Linked DNA regions of Homo sapiens: regions 2, 3, 4 and 5 are each linked to region 1. The links come from fine-mapping of genetic effects on gene expression. A gene starts in region 1. Each other region holds a variant in brackets. All regions are shown on one strand. Distances are from middle to middle.

Region 1 (5,104 bases):
TCAAACCATGTTTTTATACTGTGTGCAAATGACTCCCCTGGATACAGCTGATTATTTCTTAGATATGAAAGAATATCTAGTAGTTTATTTGAATAGTTATCATCCTTTATGTCTTTTCCAAAATCAAAGAAAGCTTTTAAAGTTTCCAACATAGGAACAATATCATGACCTAGCAATTCCTGATATAAATTCCAAGCTGTGTTTACATCTTGATGAAGGAGAGCTCCCTGGATACAGTCATTATAGTTCTTTTTTGAAGGAGTTATAACTTTTTTGATGTCCTCTAACAGCAACAATGCTTCTCTCCATCTGTCTGAATGGATCAATCCCCGGATGAGAAGACTGTAACCTCTAGGTTCTAAAGTCTTATATCTGGCTTTCATAATTTCAAAGACATCAATAACTTCAGATGTCTGCATATGAAAGACACAGAGATACAAATACTTGACCAGTAAATCGTAACTTACAATACCATTATTTTTGGCTGCTACCCATGCCAGCAGAGATTTAGCCACATCTATAGAGCTATGACAGCCAGCCATCTGTGAAATGATCCAACTTTCGAAACTGGTCTTTCCGGTGTTTTCTTTTAAATCTTCCTTAAGTTTATCCCACTCCTCTGAATTCAAAGGTTGTGTTGGGAGTTGAATAGTGTTCCTCACAGGTGCCAAGGCATGATCTTCAGTTTGAGAATTCATCTGTGATCTCTCCTTAGCTGCTCCAGCTAAAAAAAAATGAGGAACAGAATAAACTTGCTTATTACTGCCCTCATCTTTCCTGAGATATCTGGCCTTGGCAATCAGATTCGTTGCTTTGGTATTCTGTGGAGACATTGTTTTAAGAGAAAACAACCTCTGCTGGTTCCTGATGCCACAGCGGTCTGCCAGAAACAGCGAGACATAAGAGTGCCCTGGGCCTAGCCCAAGGTATGGGCTCTTCCAAAGCTTCGGAAAGCTTCGAATACCAAACAAATAGAAAGTCATTATGCAGTGAGATCAGCACCAGATAGTGAGAGAGATGTTGAAAAAACCCCTCTTCTATGGCAAAATTAAAGAGATTGGGGGTCGGCGGTGCAGAGTCGAAGTGGAACTTTTTAAAAGGTTTGTGTTTCTTCCTTACAGACAAATCAAGGTTCTGCTTTTGGGGCTACTTAAAAGCAAGAAGGCAGGTGAGTTTTCTCTATTAAACAACAATCCGGGGATGTCCAACGTCGCAAGCCGCAAACCAGGGGACAGAGCAGGAATCCTCTGGTGCCTCTTACATTCCAGTTCATGAACCTGAGGAAAAAGCACAAGACGGAACGCCCAGTTTTACTCACGTGGATCACAGCTGTCCTGAAAAGGAACAGATTCCCACGGGAAGCTTGCTGGAAAGGGGGTGTAAAGCCAAAACCGTATCCAGGGACCCCCAACTCCAGCCTACCACCAACAGCGGCGAAAGCCGAAGTCTAGGGGCCCTCACCCTGCATAGCTCTCTACAGACCGCAAAACTCCTCCGGTGGGGGGACGAGGAGGGAGGAGGTGGCGAGTCAGCTGCGCCAACGACTCAGGAAAGGAAGAGAGGTACAGGAAGGGCGCTGCCTAGACTGCGTACCGAACGCTGACAAATGAAGTTCACTTCATTCAACAACTCAAAGCGGCACTCAGACTTAACGCGGCCATAAACGCGGCGGAAACTACAGTGCCCACGATGCACCGCGCCAGCCCCGACCGACGGACGAGACTGACCCGGACTTAGGCGTTCCGCCTGGCCCGGCGGCGAGGAAAAAAGGCAGTTTTGAAGCATTTAGTGGCAAAAGGGGTAGGAGACGGCTGCTGAAGTGTCTACTACATTCAGGGGACCTGGAAGGCTTCCAGATATCCGCAATGAACAATGAAAAGAAATTGTGAAAGAAGGCGCTTCCCTCAAGCCGGAACTAATGAACTCCTGGGTCACGTGGTGCGCACGCGCCAAAGGCACACGATAAAGGAAAACGCGGGCTTATCGTGGCCTTTAAAATCCGGCTTGGTGAGCTTGGGTCGCCTCTGAAGGAGAACCATTTTCCATCTCTTTCATAGTTTTTTCCCCCAGTCAGCGTGGTAGCGGTATTCTCCGCGGCAGTGACAGTAATTGTTTTTGCCTCTTTAGCCAAGACTTCCGCCCTCGATCAAGATGGTGGTTGGACGGCCTTCCTAACCTTTACGGGGCCTGGCGGTGCTGACGCCTGAGCTGGTAGGGGTGGAGCAGGTAGGAAACAGCAAATGCAGAAGCTGCTGCGCGGAAGTCGGCCATGGACTGGAAAGAAGTTCTTCGTCGGCGCCTAGCGACGCCCAACACCTGTCCAAACAGTGAGTTTTGGGAGGGGCAGCCCGTTGGGATGGCCCGGCCCTAAACTCCTAGAGGTAGGGGGGAGGTGGGGAGGAGGAGCAAGGGGGAGCCGCCTTTTCCGCTTCTGTGAAACCTCCCGACAAAGGAGGCGGAGTGGAATGTGGTTTAAGGATCCCGATAGGTTTGACCCAAACTTTCCTGGGGCAGAATCTAGAGGAACGAAAAACTTAGCTTTAGTCACTGACTTCCATGGTCTTAATCTAAACTTGTGAAGAATAACTTGGAACCCCGGCTCCAACAACGCCTGAACCCCACCAGGACCTATAATTGTCCTCCTGCCTTTTTACTGTCACGCTTTTTGCTTCCCTCGTAATCCATTTTATATTTCATAATCCATTTTTCCTTTTATTTTTCTCCTTCACATTGCTTATTAACTAACCTCGTTAAATCTACCTTTCCTATTCCACACCCGCACTAAGGGCTGTTGAAAGTGGCTGGAGAAAAACAGAACCTTGGTGAGTTGTCTCACTTTTTTTTTTGAGACGGAGTCTCTTGCTCTGTCGCCCAGGCTGGCTGGAGTGCAGTGGCAGCATCTCCGCTCACTGCAACCTCTGCCTCCCGGGTTCAAGCGGTTCTTCTGCCTCAGCCTCTGGAGTAGCTGGAACTATAAGCGCGCGCAACCACGGCCGGTTAATTTTTGTATTTCTAGTAGAGACGGGGTTTCGCCATATTGGCCAGGCTGGTCTCAAACTCCTGACCTTGTGATTCGCCCACCTCGGCCTCCCAAAGTGCTGGAATTACAGACGTGAGTCACCGCGCCCCGCCGAGTTATCTCACTTTTAATACAAGTCCACTAATCTAAAGAAGGTGTTTTGGTCATGTCTACCGTGTTTTCCTGGACGTTCATTCTCCTACATTCAATTTTCATCTCCCAAACTGCCAATCTGTGTTTTCCTAAATACACTTTTTTTTTTCCGATACAGGATCTCCCTGTGTTGCCCAGGCTGGAGTGCAGCGGCGCAGTGAAGTATTGCTGCAACCTCGATTTCCTGGGCTCAAGGGATCTTCCCACCCCAGCCTCTTGAGCAGCTAGAAGTACAGGCACACGCCACCACACCCGGCTAATTTTTTATTTTTAGTGGAGATGAGGTCTTGCTATGTTGCCTGGGCTGGTCTCGAATTCCTGGCCTCAGGCAGTCTTCCTACCTCCACCTCCCAAAGTGTTGCTATTACAGACGTGAGCCGCCGCACCCAGGCAACACTCTTTTACACTATTCTTCTCATCTCCTACACCTGCAGTCTGTCCTACCCGCTTCTTACTTTAAGCTGATGAACTTGTATTTTAATATATATCTCATTAAGAAAGGAGAAGCAGTCGGCCGGGCGCGGTCGCTCAGTCCTGTAATCCCAGCACTTTGGGAGGCCGAGGCGGGCGGATCACGAGGTCAGCAGATCGAGACCATCCTGGCTAACACGGTGAAACCCCGTCTCTACTAAAAATACAAAAAAATTACCCGGTAGTGGTGGCGGGCGCCTATAGTCCCAGCTACTCCAGAGGTTGAGGCAGGAGAATACCTTCAACCCGAGAGGCGGAGCTTGCAGTGAGCCCGAGATTGTGCCACTGCACTCCGGCCTGGGCGACCGAGCGACACTCAGTCTCAAAAAAAAAGGAGAAGCAGTCAGAGGAGAACATCACCTGTCCCCCTTAACATTTCTTTCAGCCCCACAACCCCACAGTTAGTTGCCCATACACTCTGGCTTCACTGTTAAAATGATGAACTGATGCCGGGCGCGGTGGCTCAAGCCTGTAATCCCAGCACTTTGGGAGGCCGAGGCGGGCGGATCACGAGGTCAGGAGACTGAGACCGCAGTGAAACCCCGTCTCTACTAAAAATACAAAAAATTAGACGGGTGCGGTGGCGGGCGCCTGTAGTCCCAGCTACTCAGGAGGCTGAGGCAGGAGAATGGCGTGAACCCGGGAGGCGGAGGTTGTAGTGAGCCGGAGATTGTGCCACTGCACTCCAGCCTGGGCGACAGAGCGAGACTCCGTCTCAAAAAAAAAAAAAAAAAAAGATGAACTGTCCATGCTCCTATTTAAGAGTCCCTCCAGTCCACCACTAGATTGCATTCTTTTCCCTGTATTCACTGACTTCCTTCCAGCCTCCTCCTTTCTTTCCTACATCATCAGATTTTCCTTCTGCTGGATCATTTACACCAGCACAAACGTGCTGTTAATATCACCCATCTTTTTAAAAGGTGGGTGGTCGGGGGTAGTGGTGTTGGGAGGCTCGGTGGCTCATTCATGTAACCCCAGCACTTTGGGAGGCCGAGATGGGAAGATCGCTTGAGGCCAGGAGTTTGAGACCAGCCTGGGCAACATAGTGAAACACCGTTTCTACAAAAATAGAAAGTAAAAAATTAGCCCGGGTGGTTGTGCACCACTGTAGTCCTAGCTACTCGAGAGGCTGAAGCAGGGAGGGTTGTTTCAGTCTAGGAGTTTGGGGCTGCAGTGAGCTATGATCATGACACTATACTGCAGCCTGGGTGACAAGAGCCAGACCCTGTCTTAAAAAAAATTCATTTGGGCTGGGCACTGTGGCTTACACCTGTAATCCCAACACTTCGGGAGGCCGAGGTAGGCAGATCACTTGAGGTCAGGAGTTCAAGACCAGCCTGGCCAACATGGTGAAAGTCCGTCTCTACTAAAAATACAAAAAGTAGCTGGGCGCAGTGGTGCACACCTGTAATCCCAGCTACTTGGGAGGCTGAAGCGGGAGAATCGCTTGAACCCAGGAGG
Region 2 (5,104 bases), 120 kb before region 1:
TTTTTTCAAATATTTTTGATCTGTGGTTGGTTGAATCCACGGGCGAGGGGAACCCACAAATATGGAGGGCTATTTCACACAGCACATCTCAATTTGGTCAGCCACATTTCAAGTGCTCAACAGACCCACTGGCTAGTAGCTACCATATTGGATAATGCAGGGCCAGAGGGACTAATTGAGGAGGCAATTTCAGCAGAATTTGTTGATTTAATCAATGTGGAGGAGGAGGAACAAGGAGGTAGAAATCACTGTGATTGCTGGCTTGGGTAACTCAATAGGTGAAGATATTAAATTTTAAGAACAATCTAATAGCCAGAAAACTGCTATGAACTTCTGATATGTTGTAGAATAAAAAAATGAGGAGATCCAGTGTGATCCTACATGCTAGTCCAAGGATGTTTACTTGAACTAAATGTTGGTTCTTTTCACCTGTATAGCTAATACAGCATAGGAAAAGTGACACCAGCAAAAGAAGGTGGGAGGCACCACAGCTGTCCCTGAAATTATTTGCTGTCTCAAAACACAATTGGTTGCCTTGGAAATGGCTGTAACTACCTGCATGTGTGCATACACATGTAGCTATGGATGGGCGTAAACAAACAAAGATCAAGAAAACCCACCCGGGTAAATTTTAAACCAAAAAAAAAAAAAAAAAAAGATGGTTTAAAAGTTGACCACTGCCCAGGAAGCAGGAACCACAGTATTTTTAAAGAATGCTAAAATAAAAATGTGTATATGCAGAATGCAAGGAAACTGGCATAACTTTGGTGGTAGTGAAATGATTGATGAACCACCAACTCTAATTCCAATCAGTACAACATTCCTACTAAGCTCTTCAACATCTTTTCTAATTTCTTCTTCTTTTTTTTTTTTTTTTGAGATGGAGTCTTACTCTGTCACCCAGGTTGGAGTGCAGTGGCATGATCTCCACTCACTGCAACCTCCGCCTTCCAGGTTCAAGCGATTTTCCTGTCTCAGCCTCCTGAGTAGCTGGGACTACAGGCGCACGCCACCACGCCTGGCTAATTTTTGTATTTTTAGTAGAGACAAGGTTTCACCATGTTGGCCAGGCTGGTCTCAAACTCTTGACCGCAGGTGATCTGCCCGCCTCTGCCTCCCAAAGTGCTGGGATTACAAGCATGGGGCACCGTGCCCAGCCAACTTTTCTAATTTATTCTATAGAGGCCAGAGCAGAAGACCCTTGGTTTTCTTTAGTTGTACAGGGCAGGACAGTTCATGATTTGGCATGACACTGGTATGGCTTCATTCACAGAATGCTTGCAGGCAACGTCTGAAATGCCAAAGAAACAATGTGTCATGTACATGTAACCTGTCAAAGGTCACGAGAATCTTGTTTCTAAAATTTAGACCAGCCATCTAATTTTATGAACACTATACAGTAGTCTGTTCTTGTTCTTCACCAGCTCGTTGCCTGATCTAATAAACTCTTAATTATAAGCTGGTATTCAAATGCTGAGGAGAAAAGGGGCTCCACCTTGATCATGTACTTTGAAAAAATATTGTTTGTTTTTAGGGAAGCAGACATCTCTGGAGAAAGCATAGGAAGTGGATTTAGTGTAGTTTGTTTTTTTTTTTTTTTTCTTGAGACGGAGTCTTACTCTGTCACCCAGGCTGGAGTGCGGTGTTGCAATCTTGGCTCATTGCAACCTCCGCCTCTGGGTTTTCCTGCCTCAGCCTCCCAAGTCGCTGGGATTACAGGCACCTGCCACCACACCTGGCTAATTTTTTTGTATTTTTAGTAGAGACGGGGTTTCACCATGTTGGCCAGGCTGGTTTTGAACTCCTGACCTCAAGAGATCCGCCCGCCTCGCCTCCTAAAGTGCTAGGATTATAGCCGTGAGCCACCACCACACCTGGCCTAGTGTAGTGTTTTGAGAGCTGTTACCTCTGGGCAAGTCACAGCCTTTTAAGCCAGTTTCCTTATATGTAAAGTAAGAAAAATACAACACTTAGTCCATAGGGATGTGTGAGGATCAAATCACTTAATATTAATGAAAGGACTCTATAAGCTGTAAAAGACTACGTGTTGTTATTGTTAGGCTGTAAAAGCACAATGTCATACATTTATATATAGCCTTGTGATGCCTTAAAAAAGCTTTGATATGCCTTACTTCATAGGACTGCTTAAGCACAGTGTCCAGCTTTAATAAGAGTATTTGGTTTCTGGCCCTTCAGATAAAATGCAGAGAAAAAAAGACGTGTTAACTTAGAATGGCTATGTGCACTGTATTTAAAGAGTTTTGTTTGTTTCACTTAATGAATCTTAATCTTAAAAAGGTTAAGATTTTAAGAGAATTAAGAGGTTTAATGACAACAGAGTTGACATATTTTTCCCAAAGTCCTAGACTTTCATTCCTTTAAGCACATTCTTTTCCTCTTTTTTAGATTCCACTGTCATCACTTTAGTTCAAGATGTCATTAGGTCTTTTGGTTGGTCTTTCAATGCTGTTTCTCCTGTGACATTGCCAGGTTAACTTTCCTACAACCTGGCTTTCTTTGTGTCATTTTCCTATACATACTCATCCTCCAAATCCTAATTTCTGGCATTGGTAGGCTGTCCAAACCTACAGGTGTAAACAAATCCAGAGAACTACCCAGTGAGGGGCGGTCTAGATATGTGGGTTTGGGAATTACAAATGCATACCACAGGGCATGATAGTGCGGCACGGTAAAAGACCACAGACTTTGGTGTCAGATTGGCATTTCAATTCTGAATCTGTTACTTTTATTAACGATTCAGGGAAGTGACTTAATTGCACCTCAGTTTTCTCATTTGTAAAATGAGAATCTAATTTCTTCATAGGATTGTTTAAGCACAGTGCCCACCTTTAATACAGTGTTTGGTTTCTGGCCCTTCACATAAAACGCAGAGAAAAAAAAAAAAGATGTGTTAACTTAGAATGGCTATGTGCACTGTATTTAGAGTTTTGTTTGTTTGACTTAATGAACAGATATTATATCTAATTTAAAAATTTAAGGCCAGGCACGGTGGCTCATGCCTGTAATCCCAGCACTTTGGGAGGCCGAGGTGGGTGGAGCACAAGGTCAGGAGATCAAGACCATCCTGGCTAACACAGTGAAACCCCGTCTCTACTAGAAATACAAAAAAAATTAGCCGGGCTTGGTGGCATACGCCTGTAGTCCCAGCGGAGGCTGAGGCAGGAGAATCTCTTGTACCC[G/A]GGAGGCAGAGGTTGCAGTGAGCCGAGATAGCACCACTGTACTCCAGTCTGGGCAACAGAGCAAGACGCTGTCTCAAATAAAAAATAGAAGTTTAAGAAGGTGAAAAGGCAAAATTGGAAAGGGGAACTATAAATATTTTAATATATTCAGATATCTCCCTAGTCAAAACATTAACTGTAAATTGATTTAAGTTACATGGTCATTTTTGCCTGTGGAAGAGGATAGATTTGAAAGAAACAAAACTGAAGATGAGAAACCAGTTAGGAGGCTATGATAGGGATTTAAGCAGGTACTAACAAGGATCTGATGAGAAAGATATGGTAAAAGAAGAAGAGAAAAGAATGGATTTGAGAAACAGAGCTGGGCATAGTGGTTGATGCCTGTAACCCCAGCACTTTGGGAGGTCTAGGTGGGAGGATCGCTTGAGTCTGGGAGTTTGAGATCCGCCTGGGCAACATAGGGAGACTTTGTCTCTACGAAAAATTTAAAAATTAGTTGGATGTGGTGGCGCACGTCTGTGGTCCCAGCTACTCAGGATGCAGAGGCAGGAGGATCATTTCAGCCTAGGAGGTCAAGGCTGCAGTGAGCTGTGATGGCGCCACTGCACTGTAGCCTGGGTGACAGAGCAAGACTCTGTCGAGAGAGAGAAAGAGAGAGAGAGAGAGAAGGAAGGAAGGAAGGAAAGGAAGGAAGGGAAGGAAAGGAAGGAAGAGAAGGAAGGAAGAGAAGGAGGGAAGGAAGGAGTGAAGGAGGGAAGGAGGGAGGGAGGAAGAAAGGAAAGAAAAGAAAGAAAAGAAAAATGAAAGAAAGAAGGAGAAAGAGAGAGAAAGAAAGAAGATGAGAGAGAGAGAGAAATAATTAGGAGGTAAAATTGGCAAGACTTGGTGAACATTTGGTACCACCTATTGGTGTAGATGTCTGGCAGGAAGATGGCAAGTTCAGTTTTGGACATACAGTATTTAGTTTCAAGTACCTGTCTAAGGTAAAGATGCAGAGATAGAACATCAGAGAACACCAACATTTAAGGAGTAAGAGAAGGAAGGGAAGTTCAAAAACAAGAGAGAACAAGGAATGGTCAGAGAGTGTAATGAGAAGGATAAGAATGTGAAGTCACAGAATTCAAAGACATAGACAATTTCAAGAAGAAAGGAATCTATAAAGTATTAAATGCAGAAAAAGAGTGATAAAGACTAAAATATGTTCATCAAAACTGGCAATTAGGAAGTTACTGCTGTCCTGAGGGAGAGCATTTTCAATGCAATGATGGAGACTAAGCCAGACTTCAGTGGGCTTAGGGGTTAGGGAGCAAATGGGTAGCAAGAAAAGAATTGTATACCAGTCTTTTGAGAGGTTTAGATGAGGAGGACAGAAACTAGAGCAAGCTAGCTATTTATGAGTTAGTGATTAAAGCAATGGAGATCCAAGAGAATCAGAAAAGCATGTCTCAAAGAGTCTACCATGGTATTTCAAGAAAACAGATAAATAGATCAGTAGGTTAAAATATAAAGAACAGTGTGTTACACGGGAAAGAACAAGGAATTTGGAATGAGACATGTCTAATCCTGTTACTTTGCCATTTACTAGCTATGAGACAAGTTACTTAACCTTTTCTGGGTCTTAGTTTCCTTATGCTTTTTTTTTTTTTTTTTTTTTTGGAGATGGGGTCTTGCTGTGTTGCCCAGGTTGGAGTGCAGTGGCACAATCTCGGCTCAATGCAACCTCCGCCTCCTGGGCTCAAGATGTCCTCCCACCTCAGCCTCCCCAGTAGCTGGGACTATATGTGTGTATCACTCTGCCTGGCTAATTTTTTGTTTTCTGTTTTTTGTGGTGTTTTTTTGTTTGTTTTTTTGGTAGAGATGGGTTTTGTCACCTTGCCCAGGCTGGTCTCAAAATCCTGAGCTCA
Region 3 (5,104 bases), 28 kb before region 1:
GGAGGGAGGCGGAGGTGGGGGGGTCAGCCCCCGCCCGGCCAGCCGCCCCGTCCGGGAGGGAGGTGGGGGGCGCCTCCACCCGGCCGCTGCCCCATCCGGGAGGTGGGAGGCACCTCTGCCTGGCCGCCCCTTCTGGGAAGTGAGGAGCCCCTCTGCCCGGCCACCATCCCGTCTGGGAGGTGTACCCAACAGCTCATTGAGAACGGGCCATGATGATGATGGCGGTTTTGTGGAATAGAAAAGGGGGAAAGGTGGGGAAAAGATAGAGAAATCAGATTGTTGCTGTGTCTGTGTAGAAAGAAGCAGACATGGGAGACTTCATTTTGTTCTGTACTAAGAAAAATTCTTCTGCCTTGGGATGCTGTTGATCTATGACCTTATCCCCAACCCTGTGCTCTCTGAAACATGTGCTGTGTCCACTCAGGGTTGAATGGATTAAGGGCGGTGCAAGATGTGCTTTGTTAAACAGATGCTTGAAGGCAGCATGCTCGTTGAGAGTCATCACCACTCCCTAATCTCAAGTACCCAGGGACACAGACACTGCGGAGGGCCGCAGGGTCCTCTGCCTAGGAAAACCGGAGACCTTTGTTCACTTGTTTATCTGCTGACCTTCCCTCCACTATTGTCCTATGACCCTGCCAAATCCCCCTCTGCGAGAAACACCCAAGAATGATCAATAAAAAAAAAAAAAAAAAGATGGATTAACAAAAAAAAAAGAAGAAAAAAAATTAGAGATAACTGATACAAAGATCCTAGCACAAAGATCTTAGCCTGACACTAAGAATTCAGTAAATGGTAACTATTATTCATTTATTCAACAAATTGAGCATCTTTATGTAAAGCACTATTCTGAGTTATGAGGATACAACAGTGTTCTAAACAGGCATTTAAAAATCCCTACCCTTGTGGTGCTTTCACTCTATACAGAGAAAAGATATATAGTAAAAGCTCTGTGTGTGTGTGTGTGTGTGTGTGTGTGTGTGTGTGTGTATGTGTGTGTGTAGCATGTCAGATAAGTGCTATGGAGAAAAATAAAGCAGAGATGGAAAATAGGGAGTGCTGGCAGATTAGAATGGGGATATGAAGGAAAGAGGGGAATCAAGGATGATTCTGACCTTTTTGACCTGAATAGCTAGAAGGAAAAAGTTGTATTTACTGAGATAGGGAAGACTATACATGTGTATAAAGATCGGGAGTTTGGTTCAGTGGTGATCAGAGGCCTTATTCTCAACATCTCAGCTGCTGCTCTTTCACACTGGTAGTTTTCTCTTCCTTCAGAAGTAAGCTGTCTGTCTTCAGCACCAGTATTACTGTTTCTAATCTAGTATCTTATTTACATTATTCTATTCTCTAAGAAGACCAAATGAAAAAGCAATAAAATCGATACATTTAAGCAATAGCTATAGAAAAACTAAATCAAAAATCCTAGGCAGAATCTTTTAAGAAAAATAACACTAAAAGTGTATCACTCTGGGACGTACCTCACTTCCAAATACTGTTTCTAAAAATTCACTTAGTAGATGATTATAAAGAACTCACAACACTTTTCCCATAAATAAAAATTAATTTAAAAATGGCTTGGTTTCCAAGCCAAATGATGCAATGGGTTATAGTATAACAGTAATAATGCCAACCTGAATCTGAGAGAGAAAAGATCACTCGCTGTAAGAAAGATAAGACTCTCTTGCCCTTAGCACAAGAAAAGTCAAGTATCTCCTTTGCACACTCCCACCTTGTTTCAACCTCCTAAAGGTGACTTTATCCCTCTGTCTCTAGCACACTACTCCACACAAAACTTTCCATTTGAGCACCCCCCTCAGATCAGCCCCTCAAAACGTTCTCTATGAAAAATCACCAACCCAACTCTAAAACAGCAGCAGCCAAACACCCATAGCCACACATAATTTTCATTTCCTTGTAAAGCCAAACTCAGCTAGGCTTTAGGAGGAAAGTACACTGCTTCAAGCTAAATCTCATAAAAAAGCCTGGATCCCAGCTGGTAGAATTTCAGTCAAGTGT[T/C]ACATAAAAGAAAAAGAATGAAGAAATAAGGAAAACATTTGACATTGGGAAGGCCACTGCTAGGAGTGACCTGCTTGTCCTTTTAACTTTTTAACCTTCCTAAAATTCTGAATTCATTGATTTTTCTAGAAGCTTTACATTTTTGGCCAGAATTCTTGCACCGACATACCTGAATGGTAATTGTTTTAGGGCACCAGAAACCGTGCTGCTGTAAGACAGTAAACTTAATCAATAAATGTTGTGTGACTTCTGATTGCTCCACCAACAGCCATTTCCCCATCTTTCTCCCTCTGTTCAGGCCTCCCTATTACCTGAGACACAACAATACTGAAATTAGGCCAATTAATAATTCTACGATGGCCTCTAGGTGTTCAAGTGAAAGGAAGAGTCTCCGGTCTTACACTTTAAATCAAAAGCTTGAAATCACTGAGCTTAGTGAGGAAGGCATGTCAAAAGCTAAGACAGGGCTGGGCATGGTGGCTCACGCCTGTAATCCCAACATTTTGGGAGGCCGAGGCAGGCGGATCACTTGAGGCCAGAAGTTCCAGACCAGCCTGGGAAACATGGCGACACCCCATCTCTACTAAAAATTAGCCGGTGTGGTGACACATGCCTGTAATCCCCAGCTACTCGGGAGGCTGAGGCATGAGGATTGCTCAACTGAACCTGGGAGGCAGAGGTTGCAGTGAACTGAGATTATGCCGCTGCACTCCAGCCTGGGTGATAGAGTGAGACTCTGTCTCCCCGCCTTAAAAAACAAAACAAAACAAAACAAAAAAGCTAAGATAGGCCAAAAGCTAGGTACCAAACTTTGCAAATGCAAAGTTCTCGAAAGAAATCAGAAGTGCTACTTCAGTGAACAAATAAATGATAAGAAAGCAAAATAGCCTTATTGCTGATATGAAGAAAGTTTTGGTGGTCTGGATGAAACATCAAACCAGCCACAACATTCTCTTAAGCCAAAGCAAGACCTGAATGCTTCAATTCCACAAAGGCTGACAGAGGTGATGAAGCCGTAGAAGAAAAGTTGGAGGCCAGCAGAATTTGGCTCAAGAGGTTTAAGAAAATAAGCAATCCCCATAACATAAAAATGCAAGGTGCCAGTCATGGTTGCTCACACCTGTAATCACAGTACTTTGGGAGGCTGAAGCAAGAGGATCACTTGAGGTCAGGCGTTCGAGACCAGTCTGGGCAACATAGCAAGATCCTATCTCTACAAAAAATTTAAAAATGATCCAGGTATGGTGGTATGCCTGTAGTCCTAGCTACTTGGGAGGCCTAGATGGGAGGATTACTTGAGCACAGGAGTTCGAGGCCCCAGTGGACTATGATCATAGCACCACACTCCAGCCTGGATGACAGAATGAGACACTGTATTAAAAAAAAAAATTAGGCCGGGCGCGGTGGCTCACGCTTGTAATCCCAGCACTTTGGGAGGCCGAGGCGGGCGGATCACGAGGTCAGGAGATCGAGACCATCCTGGCTAACACGGTGAAACCCCATCTCTACTAAAAATACAAAAAAATTAGCCGGGCGTGGTGGCGGGCGCCTGTTGTCCCAGCTACTCGGGAGGCTGAGGCAGGAGAATGGCGTGAACCTGGGAGGCGGAGCTTGCAGTGAGCCGAGATTGCGCCACTGCACTCCCACCTGGGCCACAGAGCGAGACTCCGTCTCAAAAAAAAAAAAAAAAAAAAAAAAATTAAAAAGTGCAACATGTAGGCTGCTGGGAGGTTATGGGCACAGACTGGTGGAACCAACACAAAAAACAAAAAAAGTGCAAGGTGAAGCAGCAAGTACTCATGTAGAAGCTGCAGCAAGCTATCCAGAAGATCTAAGATCACTGATGAAGGTGGCTACACTAAGCAACAGATTTTCCGTGGAGACAAAACAGCCCCTTCTATTGGAAGAAGATGCCATCTAGAATTTTCATAGCTAGAGAGAAGTCAATGCTTGACTTCAAAACTTCAAGGGACAGGCTGACTCTCTTGTTATGGGCTAATACAGCTGGTGACTTTATTGAAGTCAATGCCCGTTTACCATTCCAAAAATCTTAGAGTCCTTAACAATTATGCTGAATCTCCTCTGCCTATGCTCTATCAATGGAACAAAGCCTGGCTAACAGCACATCTGTCTACAGCATGGTTTACTGAATATTTCAAGCCCACTGTGGAGACCTACTGCTCCAAAAAAAAGACTCTTCAAAATATTATTGCTCAGTGACAATGCACTTAGTCACCCAAGAGCTCTTATGGAGATGTATAAGGAGATGAAAGTTGTTTTCATGTCTACCAACACAACATCCATTCTAAAGCCCATGGATAAAAGAGTAAATTCGACTTTCTAGTCTTATTATTTGAAAAACATGTTTTGTAAGGCTATAGCTGTCATAGACAGTGATTGCTCTGAAGGATTTGGGCAAAGTCAACGGAAAACTTTCTGGAAAGGATTCACCGATCTACATGCCACTAAGAACATTTGTGATTCATGGAAAGAGGTTGAAATATCAACAGTAACAGGTTTGGAAGAAGTTGACACCAACCCTCATGGATGACTCGGAGGGATTCAAAATTTCAGTGGAAGAAGGAACTGCAGATATGGTGGAAATAGCAAGAGAACTAGAATTAGAAGTGGAGCCTGAAGATGTGACTGAATTGCTTCAATCACAAAATAAAACTTGGATTAGGAATTTCTTCTTATGGATTAGCAAAGAAAGTGGTTTCTTGAAATAAAACTCACTCCTAGTAGACACGTTGTAAATATTGTTAAAATGATAACAAAGAATTTAGAATATTACGTAAACTTAGTTGACAAGGCAGCAGCAGGATTTCAGAGGATTGACTCCAATTTTGAAAAAAGTTCTAATGTGGTAAAATGCTTTCAAAAAGCACTGCATGCTGCAGAAAAATATTTTGTGATAAGAAGAGTCAATTTATGTGGCAAACTTCATTATTGTCTTATTTTAAGAAATTGCCACACAGTGGCTCATGCCTGTAATCCCAGCATGTTGGGAGGCTGAGGTGGGTGGATCGTTTGAGCCCAGGAGTTCAAGACCAGCCTGGGCAATGTGGCAAAACCCCAGCTCGAC
Region 4 (5,104 bases), 200 kb before region 1:
ACTCAGTTTTTGTTTTCGTTTTTGTTTGTTTGTTTTTACCCGCAACAGGGGAATAATAATAGTATAAGTCTATTATTCTTTATCCAAAAGGCATGGGGCCAGGTTCTTTTCTTTCTTTCTTTCTTTTTAAACAGAGTCTCACTCTGTGGCCCAGGCTGGAGTGCAGTGGTGCAATCTTGGCTCACTGCAACCTCTGCCTCCCAGGTTCAAGCGATTCTTGTGCCTCAGCCTCCCGAGTACCTGGGACTACAGGCGTGCGCCACCACGCCTAATTTTTTTTTGTATTTTTAATAGAGACGGGGTTTTGCTATGTTACCCAAGCTGGTCTCGAACTCCTGAGCTCAGGCAATCTGCCCACCTCGGCCTCCCCAGCGAGGATTATAAGCATGAGCCACCACGCCTGGCACAGATGCGTTCGGAATATAATGTATTTTGGATTTTAGAGTGGTAATATGATGTCTAAACCATATATTCCATAACTCTACCACTGGAGTCTGGGGCAGCACCCTATAATTAAGCACATTCATATTTCTGCAGAAATAAAGTGAGATATAAAAAGCCAGTTGAGTTTTAAGAACTTCCTGAATTTTGGAACTGTAGACAAGCAAATTATAAATGTTCAACTTAAACCAGTTTAAAGGATATTGTATCTAAAACAGGGCCTGTCCCAATAAAGACTAATACTTTATTAGGTCACTTTCTTATTTTTTTAGGTAAATAATCTAAATAGTAGATTATAATTCTATCTCCATTCCAATACCTCTTAATTTCATTTCTTATTGTATCAGCTGGAATTTCCAGAATGTAAAATAAATGGAGTTAGAAGCCATCTTGGAGCCAGGTATGGTGGCTGTAATCCCGCCTGTAATTCCAACACTGGGAAGCTGAGGCAGGAGGATGGCTTGAGCCCAGGAGTTGGACACCAGTCTGGGCAACATGGCGAGACCCTGCCTCTACAAAAATAAAACAGGCTTGGCGTGGTGGCTCACGCCTGTAATCCCAGAACTTTGGGAGGCCGAGGCAGGTGGATCACGAGGTTAGGAGTTGGAGACCAGCCTGACCAACATGGTGAAACCTCGTCTCTATTAAAAATACAAAAATTAGCTGGGCGTGGTGGCACGCGCCTGTAATCCCAGCTACTCAGGAGGCTGAGGCAAGAGAATCACTTGAACCTGGGAGCGGAGGTTGCAGCGAGCCGAGATCGTGCCCCTCCACTCCAACCTGGGTGACAGAAGGAGACTCCGTCTCAAAGAATAAAAATAAATAAAAATAAAAAAATTTAAACTAATTCACCATTATGATGTTAATTAGCTTAGCTGTCATTTTAGATTTTTGTTTGTTTTTTTGAGACAGGTGTCTCATTCTGTCCCCCAGACTGGAGTGCAGTGGCGTGACCACAGCTTACTATAGCCTCGACCTCTTGGGCTCAAGTGATCCTCTCACCTCAGCCTCCTGAGTAGCTAGACTACAGGTGTGTGCCCCTACGTGAAGATCCTTAATGTAATAATTTGGTTGTGTCACAAATCTGGATCTTGGATTTGGAGGCTAGTGAGGGAGCTGAGTACCTGGTTTGTTGCTGACTTGTAACCTAAATGGTACAGTAACTGCTTATGAAAAATGAGGTATCAAGAGAAGGAAAGCCTCATGTCTACCCAAATAGCTTCACGTTCATGAATGTCTGGACATATCCTCTGAGTGTCAGAATTATTATATTTCTCATATTTAAAAAATCATATCTGTATTTTTTTTTGAGACAGTCTAGCTCTCTTGCCTAGGCTGAAGTGCAGTGGCGGGATCTCGGCTCACTGCAACCTCTGCCTCCCGGGTTCAAACGATTCTCCTGCCTCAGCCCCCTAAGTAGCTGGGACTACAGGTGTGCGCCCCCATGCCCAGCTAATTTTTGTATTTTTTAGTAGAGATGGGGTTTTACCAAGTTGGCCAGGCTGGTCTCGAGCTTCTGACCTCAAGTGATCCACCCCCCTTGGCCTCCCAGTGCCAGGATTACAGGCATAAGCCACTGTGTTTGGCCTCATATCTGTATTCTTATATTTATTGATTGATTTTTAGATGGAGTCTCACTCTGTTGCCCAGGCTGGAGTACAGTGGTCCGATCTCAGCTCACTGCAACCTTGGCCTCCCGGGTTCAAGTGATTCTCCTGCCGCAGCCTCCTGAGTAGCTGGAATTACAGGTGCACGCCACCACATCTGGCTAATTTTTGTATTTTTGTAGATACTGGGTTTCGCCATGTTGGCCAGGCTGGTCTTGAACTCCTGACCTGAAGTGATCCGCCTGCCTGGGCCTCCCAAAGTGCTGGGATTACAGGCGTGAGCCACTGTGCCTGGTATGTGTATTTCTTACTAATCAAAATGTTCTTTGAGTAAAGATATTTAAAGATTTCAGGCATTTTTCTTGGCATTTTGTATAACCTTTCTGCATTAACCCTTTGTTATCCATTCCAGGTAGTTTGTTTAGAAAACAAAACAAGAAACAGATTGATTGAGACAGAGTTTCACTCTTGTTGCCCAGGCTGGGGTGCAATGGCATGATCTTGGCTCACTGCAACCTCCACCTCCCAGGTTCAAGCGATTCTCCTGCCTCAGCCTCCCGAGTAGCTGGGATTACAGGCATGTGCCACCATGCCCGGCTAATTTTTTTTTAGTATAGACAGGGTTTCGCCATGTTGGTCAGGCTGCTTTTGAACTCCCGATCTCAGGTGATCTGCCTGCCTCAGCCTCCCAAAGTGCTGGGATTACAGGCATGAGCCACTGCGCCCAGCCAGAATTAGAGTATTTAATGTCCACCCTTTTATTTTCATTATTAGAGAAAGGGTCTTGCTTTGCCACCCAGCCTGGAGTACAGTGTTGTGATCATAGTTTACTACAGCCTTGAATTCCTGGGCTCAAGTGACCCTCCCACTTAAGCCTCCCAAGTAGCTAGGACTCCAGGTGTGTGTGCACCACCACA[A/C]TTGACCTAATTTTAAATTTTTCTGTAGAGACAAAATGTTGCCACACTGGTCTTGGGCTCCCAGTGTATTGGGGACTATAGGCATGAGCTACTGTACCCAGCCTAATGTTCACCTATTTAAAATGATCTATTTCTTCTCATTCTTTTAATTAAGCATAAACAACCAATATTTAAAACTATTCTATATTTAATCCTAATTCATCTAGATTTTGCCTTATAATGTAAAAACTTACTTTCTAACAAATTACAGAATTTTAGTTTTTCACCTCTGAAAAGGAGCCCCTAACAGTAAAACTGAATTAGTTGCTAGTCTCTCATCCACTGATTCTAGGAGGGTGACATCAGTCAAGGCTCTAAGGGTGTGGAAATTCAGCTTGTCTTTAGAGGATTAGCCCTTTTACATAGACCCCACTTTCGAAACGATGGCAGCACTTTCAAAGAGCCTAGTGGATTAGGATGGGTAATCCTAGAACAACCTGGAAGAACAAGGAAGAACCCTGCTTCCTTGTTAGGAAATTTTACTATTCCTGACAGCTCTGAAGAGGATGTGGTTGGTGAAGTTTCCTGCTTCTACTGGTCATATGTTTATGTGGCCTCCCCTTGTGTGGCCCTGGTGGCTGCAGAAACAGGGGCAACTCTAATTTCAGGGACTGGCATGAGACCAGCAGCCACACTCACCTGCATGAGGTCAACAGCACCAGACTTCCTCTGTGCAAAAGAGGACACAAAATGTATTACCCTTAGACTTTCCAAGATTTTTTAATCATCTCTAATTAGTGGTTCAGGTCACCAGTCTAGGGACTTTAAAAAATCCTGTACATTAAAAAAAACATAGGCTACAGCTGAGTGCGGTGGCTTACAGCTGTAATCCCAGCACTTTGGGAGGCCGAGCCAGGTGGATCACGAGGTCAGGAGTTCGAGACCAGCCTGGCCAACATGGTGAAACCCCGTCTCTACTAAAAATACAAAAATAATAATAATAATAATAATAATTAGCCGGGCATGGTGCCAGGTGCCTGTAATCCCAGCTACTCAGGAGGCTGAGGCAGTAGAGTCACTTGATCCCGGGAGGTGGAAGTTGCAGTGAGCCAAGATCACGCCACTGCACTCTAGCCTGGACGATAGAGCAAGACTCTGTCTCAAAAAAAAAAAAAAGTTACCATGAATATACAGTTTGTTCTTTCTTCCTGAACATTGTGATGCTGGGTCTCTAAACTTTAATATAAACCAATTCCTTAATGTTATCTTCAAGTACTTATTATTAAGGAGGCACAGAAACTACACACATTCTATGACTTTTCTAGCCCTGTTTCCTGAAGGTAACTAAAATTTCTACCCTTGAAAATACTGGTTCTTAATGAGTATAAATGCTTTTCTCAAAACTATGGAAGATCATACTAATCCTTTTATTATAGTTAAAGCATTCAGTGGGACTTGGAGTCCACATTCAGTAGTATCTTGTTTGAATGAGAAATTGTAAAATAAAGGCCTTTCCTCACATGCCAACTTACGGTCAGGGTGGATTTCTTTTTGGAGACCGGGTCTTACTCTGTCACCCAAGCTTAAGTGCAGTGGCACAATCACAACTCACTGCAGCATCAGACTCCTGGGCTCAAGTGATCCTCTTGCCTTAGCCTCCTGAGTAGCTGGGACTACAGGTGCAGGCTACCATGCCCAGCTAATTAAAAATTTTTTGTAGAGACGAGGTCTTGCTATGTAGTCCAGGCTCATCACAAACTCCCGGCCTCAAGCAATCCTCTCACTTCAGCCTCCCAAAGTGCTGGGATTATAGGTGTGAGCCACAGCGCCCGGCCAGAGTGGGTTTCAAAACCAAAGTTGTAGTTTGTTATTTAATTATACCATATAGCTAGTTTACATTTCTGGCTTTTTTTTTTTTTTTTAAGATGGCATTTCTGTCACCCAGGCTGGAGTGCAGTGGCACAATCTCTGCTTACTGCAACCTCTATCCCCCGAGCTCAAGCAATTCTCCCTCCTCAGTGTCCTAAGTAGCTGGGACCACAGATGTGCATGCTAAGTTTTTATATTTTTGGTAGAGACAGGGTTTCACCTTGTTGCCCAGGCTGGTCTTGAACTCCTGAGCTCAAGTGATCTGCCCGGCTAAGCCTCCCGAAGTGTTGG
Region 5 (5,104 bases), 94 kb before region 1:
CACTTTCTGACTTCAAAACTTGCTAGAAAGCTACACTAATTAAGACTGTGTGGTACTGGCATAAAGACAGACAAACAGATCAATGGAATAAAATTGAGAGTCCAGAAATAAACCTTCACATTTATGGTGAATTCATTTTTAAGAAGGGTACCAAGATAATTCAAGTAGGAGAAAAATAGTCTTTTCAACAAATAGTGCCAGGACAACTAGATATCCATATACCAAAAAGTGAAGTTGGACTCATACCAAGTACAAAAATCAACTCAAAGAGAAAAAAAACCTAAATGTAAAACTATAAAACTCCTAGAAAAAAAGATGTAAATCATTGTTACTTTGGATTAAACAATGGTTTCTTTTCTTTTTTTTTTTTTTTTTGAGACAGAGTCTTGCTCTGTCACCCAGGCCGGAGTGCAGTGACACAATCTTGGTTCACTTCAACCTTTGCCTCCCAGGTTCAAGTGATTCTCCTGCCTTAGCCTCCCAAATAGCTGGGATTACAGGTGCCTGCCACCACGCCAGGTTAATTTTTGTATTTTCAGTAGAGATGGGGTTTCACCATGTTGGCAAGGCTGGTCTAGAACTCCTGACCTCAGGTGATCTGCCCACCTTGGCCTCCCAAAGTGCTGGGATTACAGGCGTGAGCCACTGCGCCCACCCTAGACAATGGTTTCTTAAGGTACAAAACCAAAAAGACAAGTTATGAAAGAAAAAAAATAGATTGGACATCATCACAATTAAAAACTTTTGTGCTTCAAAAGTCATCTTCAAGAAAGTGAAGCCAAAAACAGAATGGGGGGAAAATTTTGCAAATATATATCTGAGAAGGACCTAATATCCAAAATGCATAAAGAACTCTTACAATTCAATAATAAAAGAAAATCAATCCAATTTTAAAATAGGCAAAGGATCTGAATGGACATTTCTCCATAGACTATACACAAATGGCTAATAAGCATATTAAAAGATGCTCAACATCATTAGCCATCAGAGAAACACGAGTCAAAAATCACTTACGATACCACTTCACACCTATTAGTACGACTATAATAAAAAAGACAGTTAACAACAAGTGCTAGCAAGGATATGGAGAAATTAGATCCTTTATATACTGCTGGTGAGAATGTAGAATGGTACAGCCCTTTGGAGAAAAAAGTCTGACAGTTTCTCAAAAACCTAATAGAAGAATTACTATATGAACTGACAATTCTACTCCTACATATATACTAAAGAGAAATAAAAACACATGTCAACACAAAAACAGGCACAAAAATGTTCATACAGTAGTATTATTCATGATAGCCAAAAAGTAGGAACAACTCAACTGATGAATGGATAAATAAAATGTGATATACCAGTGTGGACAACCTAGTGAGACCTCATCTCTACTAAAAATAAAAAAATTAGCCAGGTGTGGTGGCACGTGCCTCTGGTCCCAGCTACTTGGGGGCTGAGGCGGGAGGATTGCTTGAGCCCAGGAGGTTGAGAATGCAGTGGGCTGTGATCATGCCACTCTATTCCAGCCTGGGCAACAGAACAAGACCTTGTCAAAACAACAACAACAACAAAAAAAACCCAGAAAGGAAAAAGACAAAAACAAATAAAATGACACACACGCACACATAATTTATATATTTTCTCAATTTTATGGGAAGAAGTTGAATAAGAGTGAAAATACATCAAAATGTTAAAACTATCTCTCTCTCTCCTTCTCTCTCTCTAATATAAATGTATTATATAAATATATTATATATTATATATAAATATAAATATATACATATATGTAATTTATATTTAAAGCTAGAGTCTTACGGTTGGGTGCGGTGGCTCATGCCTATAATCCCAGCACTTTGGGAGGCCGAGGCAGGTGGATCATTTGAGGTCAGGAGTTCAAGACCAGGCTGGCCAACGTGGTGAAACCCGGTCTCTACTAAAAATACAAAAATTAGCCAGGCGTGGTGGTGGGCACCTGTAATCCAAACTACTCAGGAGGCTGAGGCAGGAGAATTGCTTGAACCCAGGAGGTGGAGGCTGTGGTGAGCCGAGATCATGCCACTGCATTCTAGTCTGGGCGACAGGGTGAGACCCTGTCCCCCCAAGAAAAAAAAAAAGAGAGATAGAGTCTTACTCTGTCACCTGGGCTGGAGTGCAGTGGTGAAATAATTGCTCAATCATAGCTCACTGAAACCTGGAATTCCTGGGCTCAAGCAATCCTTCCGCCTCCAAGCCAACAAAACAGCTAGGACTATAGGCAGACGCCACCATTCCCAGATAATTTTTAATTTTTTTTTTTGAGTCACGGTCACTTTGTTGCTTAGGCTGGTTTCAAATTACCAGCCTCAAGTGATCCTCCTGCAGTGCTGGGAGCCACCACATCTGACAAAACTGTCTATATTTGCCTGGTAAAATTATGTGTATTTTTTATTTTTTTCTTTGAAACTTACTTAAGTGTCAGTAACATCAGGAATTGGTTTATATCGCCTCATCTAAATAAAGGAAGGAATTAGACACTATTTCTCAAAGGTTGGGAGTCTGAAGACACAAAATTAAGCTGAGATTCTACCATTGTTCAGTTCCTTTCAAGAAGATGCTAAAGTACTGAGAAATACCACAGCACCCTCTTTTGGAAGAAATGCATTGTTCTTCACAGGCAACCTGCTTGAATCATTAAGTTTTTAGAGCTGAAAGAATCTTTAGAGAATATTAAGTCTGGTCTCCTCATTATCTCCTTATAAATAAGGAAACTGGGGTTTGAACAGGAAAAGAGACCACCGAAGATCATAAAAGGAGGTAGCAACAGAGCTGAGAATGAAGCCCCACATCAAATCCTAACCAGAGCTTATTTTTCTGATCTTGCCATTCTTTATTCAATAAATATTTTAAGGTTAAAAAAAAATGCTTTCCCAATCCTCAGAAAGTCTGAAGGCCTATACTCAAAAGGCACTCAAGACACCCACCTTTGTTTTGTTTTGAGATGGGAGTCTCGCTCTGTCGCCCAGGCTGGAGTGCAGTGGCACGATCTCGGCTCACTGAAACCTCTGCCTCCTGGGTTCAAGCGATTCTCTTGCCTCAGCCACCC[A/G]AGTAGCTGGGATTACAGGTGTGCACCACCACACCCAGATAATTTTTGTATTTTTAGTAGAGATGCAGTTTCGCCATGTTGGCCAGGCTGGTCTCGAACTCCTGGCCTCAGATGATCCACCCACCTCAGCCTCACAAAGTGTTGAGATTATAGGCGTGAGCCACCACACCCGGCCCCAGCTTTGTTTTGGGGTGCCAGGAACCACACCCATGTAAGATGGAGAAAAGTCTTATTTTAGAAAAACATGTCCATTCTTGCCCTGCTGCTTAAGAAGTCAGAGTAATAGATAACTTATATAACCACACAACCTCTGCATTTGTCTACTAATAATACATCTTTTTAAGATGCAACAGAAGATAAGCATATAAATCATTCCATTTAACTTCAGAAAACAAAATCGTAATATGAGAATACACTCAATATTTGTTTGGGGCTTCTGACCACATAATTGACCTAATGTACTGGGATATTATTCTAAACTCCTACAATTTCATTATTTAGGCTGGTTTACAAATGGCTACCCATAAAAAATACAACTCTTCTTCAAAAATAATACAGGGCTTGTCATTTCAGCTTTTCTCATTCTCCTGCTCCTAGATCTGAGAAGTACCCTTGCTTCCCAGACAGTATTCTTTGAAAGAACATGCTGTTTTCCTCTTATTTGAAGGATGACTCACTAAAATAAACAAATGAACATTCTGACAAGTGATGAATAAAGAATGTGTGGCTTTTATCATCATCACCATTAACAGTCTTTAAAGTGTACTAAGCAGATGCACAGGGAATATGATACAGGTATACATTATTTTATTGCACATTACTTTACAGATATTCATTTTTTACAAATTGAAGATTGGTGGCAGTCCTGTGTTTAGCAAGTCTATTAGTACCATTTTTCCAACAGCACTTCTTGTCTTTATGTCACATTTTGGTACTTCTCACAATATTTCCAATTTTTCATTATTATTATATCTGTCATAGTGATCTGTGATCTTGGATGTTACTACTGTAATTGTTTTGGGGTGCCATGAACCACACTCACGTAAGATGGAGAATCTAATCGATAAATGTTGTGTGTGTTCTGACTGCTCCACCCATCAGCTGTTCTTCCATCTCTCTCCCTCTCTTCCCTTTCCCCAAGACATAATAATATCAAAATTAGGCCAATTAACCCTGTGATGACCACTAAGTGTTCAAAAGTGAAAGGAAGAGTTGCACATTTCCTACCTTAAATAAAAATCTACAGATGATTAGTGAGGAGGGCATGTTGAAAGCCAAGACAGGTCAAAAGCTAGGCCTTTTGTGCCAGTTACCCAAGTTGTGTATGCAAAGAAAAAGGTTTTTTTCCTTTATTTTTATTTTATTTTTTTTAAGGAGACAGGATCTCACTCTGCAGACTGGAGTGCAGTTGTGCAATCACAGCTCACTGCAGCCTTGAACTCCTGGGCTGAAGTGATCCTCCCACCAGCTTTCCAAGCTAGGACTATAGGAATGAGCCACCGTGCCCAACCAGGAAAAGTTCTTGAAGGAAATTTAAAGTGTTATGCCAGTGAACACGCAAACGATAAAGAAAGCAAAACAGCCTATTGCTGAGATGAAGTTTTTGTGGCCTGGGTAGAAGACAAAACCAGCCACAACATGCCCTTACACCAAAACGTAATCCAGAGCAAGGCCCTAAACTCTCTTCAATTCTATGAAGTTTGAGAGAGGCAAGAAAGCTGCAGAAGAAAAGCTGGAAGTTGGCAGAGGTTGGCTCATGAGGTTTAAAGAAAGTAGGCATCTCCATGACATAAAAGTGTAAGACGAAGTAGCAAGTGCTGATGGAGAAGCTGCAGTGAGTTATTCCGAAGACCTAGCTAAGATCATTGATAAAGGTGGCTATACTAAACAACAGATTGGCAATGGAGACAAAAAAGCCTTCTATTAGAAGATGCCATCTAGGACTTTCATAACTAGAGAAGAGAAGTCAATGCCTGGCTTCAAAGCTTCAAAGGAGAGGCTGACTCTCTTGTAAGGGCTAATGTAGCT

What was found.
Region 2: its variant is fine-mapped to the expression of PPP2R3C in lymphoblastoid cells (GTEx, PIP above 0.99).
Region 3: its variant is fine-mapped to the expression of PPP2R3C in whole blood (INTERVAL, PIP above 0.99).
Region 4: its variant is fine-mapped to the expression of PPP2R3C in whole blood (INTERVAL, PIP 0.92).
Region 5: its variant is fine-mapped to the expression of PPP2R3C in monocytes after Pam3CSK4 (Quach 2016, PIP 0.95).

What each region holds. Positions count from the first base shown.
Region 1 is chr14:35,119,125-35,124,228 of GRCh38, reverse strand. PPP2R3C (protein phosphatase 2 regulatory subunit B''gamma) reads left to right here and starts at 2,239. Exons shown (of 13, transcript NM_017917.4): 1 at 2,239-2,327. The coding sequence starts at 2,270. It overlaps PRORP (protein only RNase P catalytic subunit), which reads right to left and starts at 1,677. Exons shown (of 8, transcript NM_014672.4): 1 at 1,594-1,677; 2 at 1-1,277. The coding sequence starts at 983. PRORP-PSMA6 (PRORP-PSMA6 readthrough) reads right to left here and starts at 2,390. Exons shown (of 15, transcript NR_182666.1): 1 at 2,177-2,390; 2 at 1-1,277. RefSeq lists enhancers at 1,184-1,693, 777-1,696, 1,704-1,783, 2,324-2,453, 1,697-2,616 and 1 more.
Region 2 is chr14:35,235,848-35,240,951 of GRCh38, reverse strand. All of the region lies in intron 5 of PRORP (protein only RNase P catalytic subunit), which reads right to left. All of the region lies in intron 5 of PRORP-PSMA6 (PRORP-PSMA6 readthrough), which reads right to left. Among named protein-coding and RNA genes, the nearest start is that of PSMA6, 54 kb to the left of the region's middle. The variant G/A (reference allele first, on the strand shown) is at 3,201.
Region 3 is chr14:35,147,526-35,152,629 of GRCh38, reverse strand. The region is part of intron 4 of PRORP (protein only RNase P catalytic subunit); the gene reads right to left. The region is part of intron 4 of PRORP-PSMA6 (PRORP-PSMA6 readthrough); the gene reads right to left. Among named protein-coding and RNA genes, the nearest start is that of PRORP, 28 kb to the right of the region's middle. The variant T/C (reference allele first, on the strand shown) is at 2,020.
Region 4 is chr14:35,319,123-35,324,226 of GRCh38, reverse strand. No RefSeq gene overlaps it. Among named protein-coding and RNA genes, the nearest start is that of PSMA6, 29 kb to the right of the region's middle. The variant A/C (reference allele first, on the strand shown) is at 2,966.
Region 5 is chr14:35,212,772-35,217,875 of GRCh38, reverse strand. The region is part of intron 5 of PRORP (protein only RNase P catalytic subunit); the gene reads right to left. The region is part of intron 5 of PRORP-PSMA6 (PRORP-PSMA6 readthrough); the gene reads right to left. Among named protein-coding and RNA genes, the nearest start is that of PSMA6, 77 kb to the left of the region's middle. The variant A/G (reference allele first, on the strand shown) is at 3,077.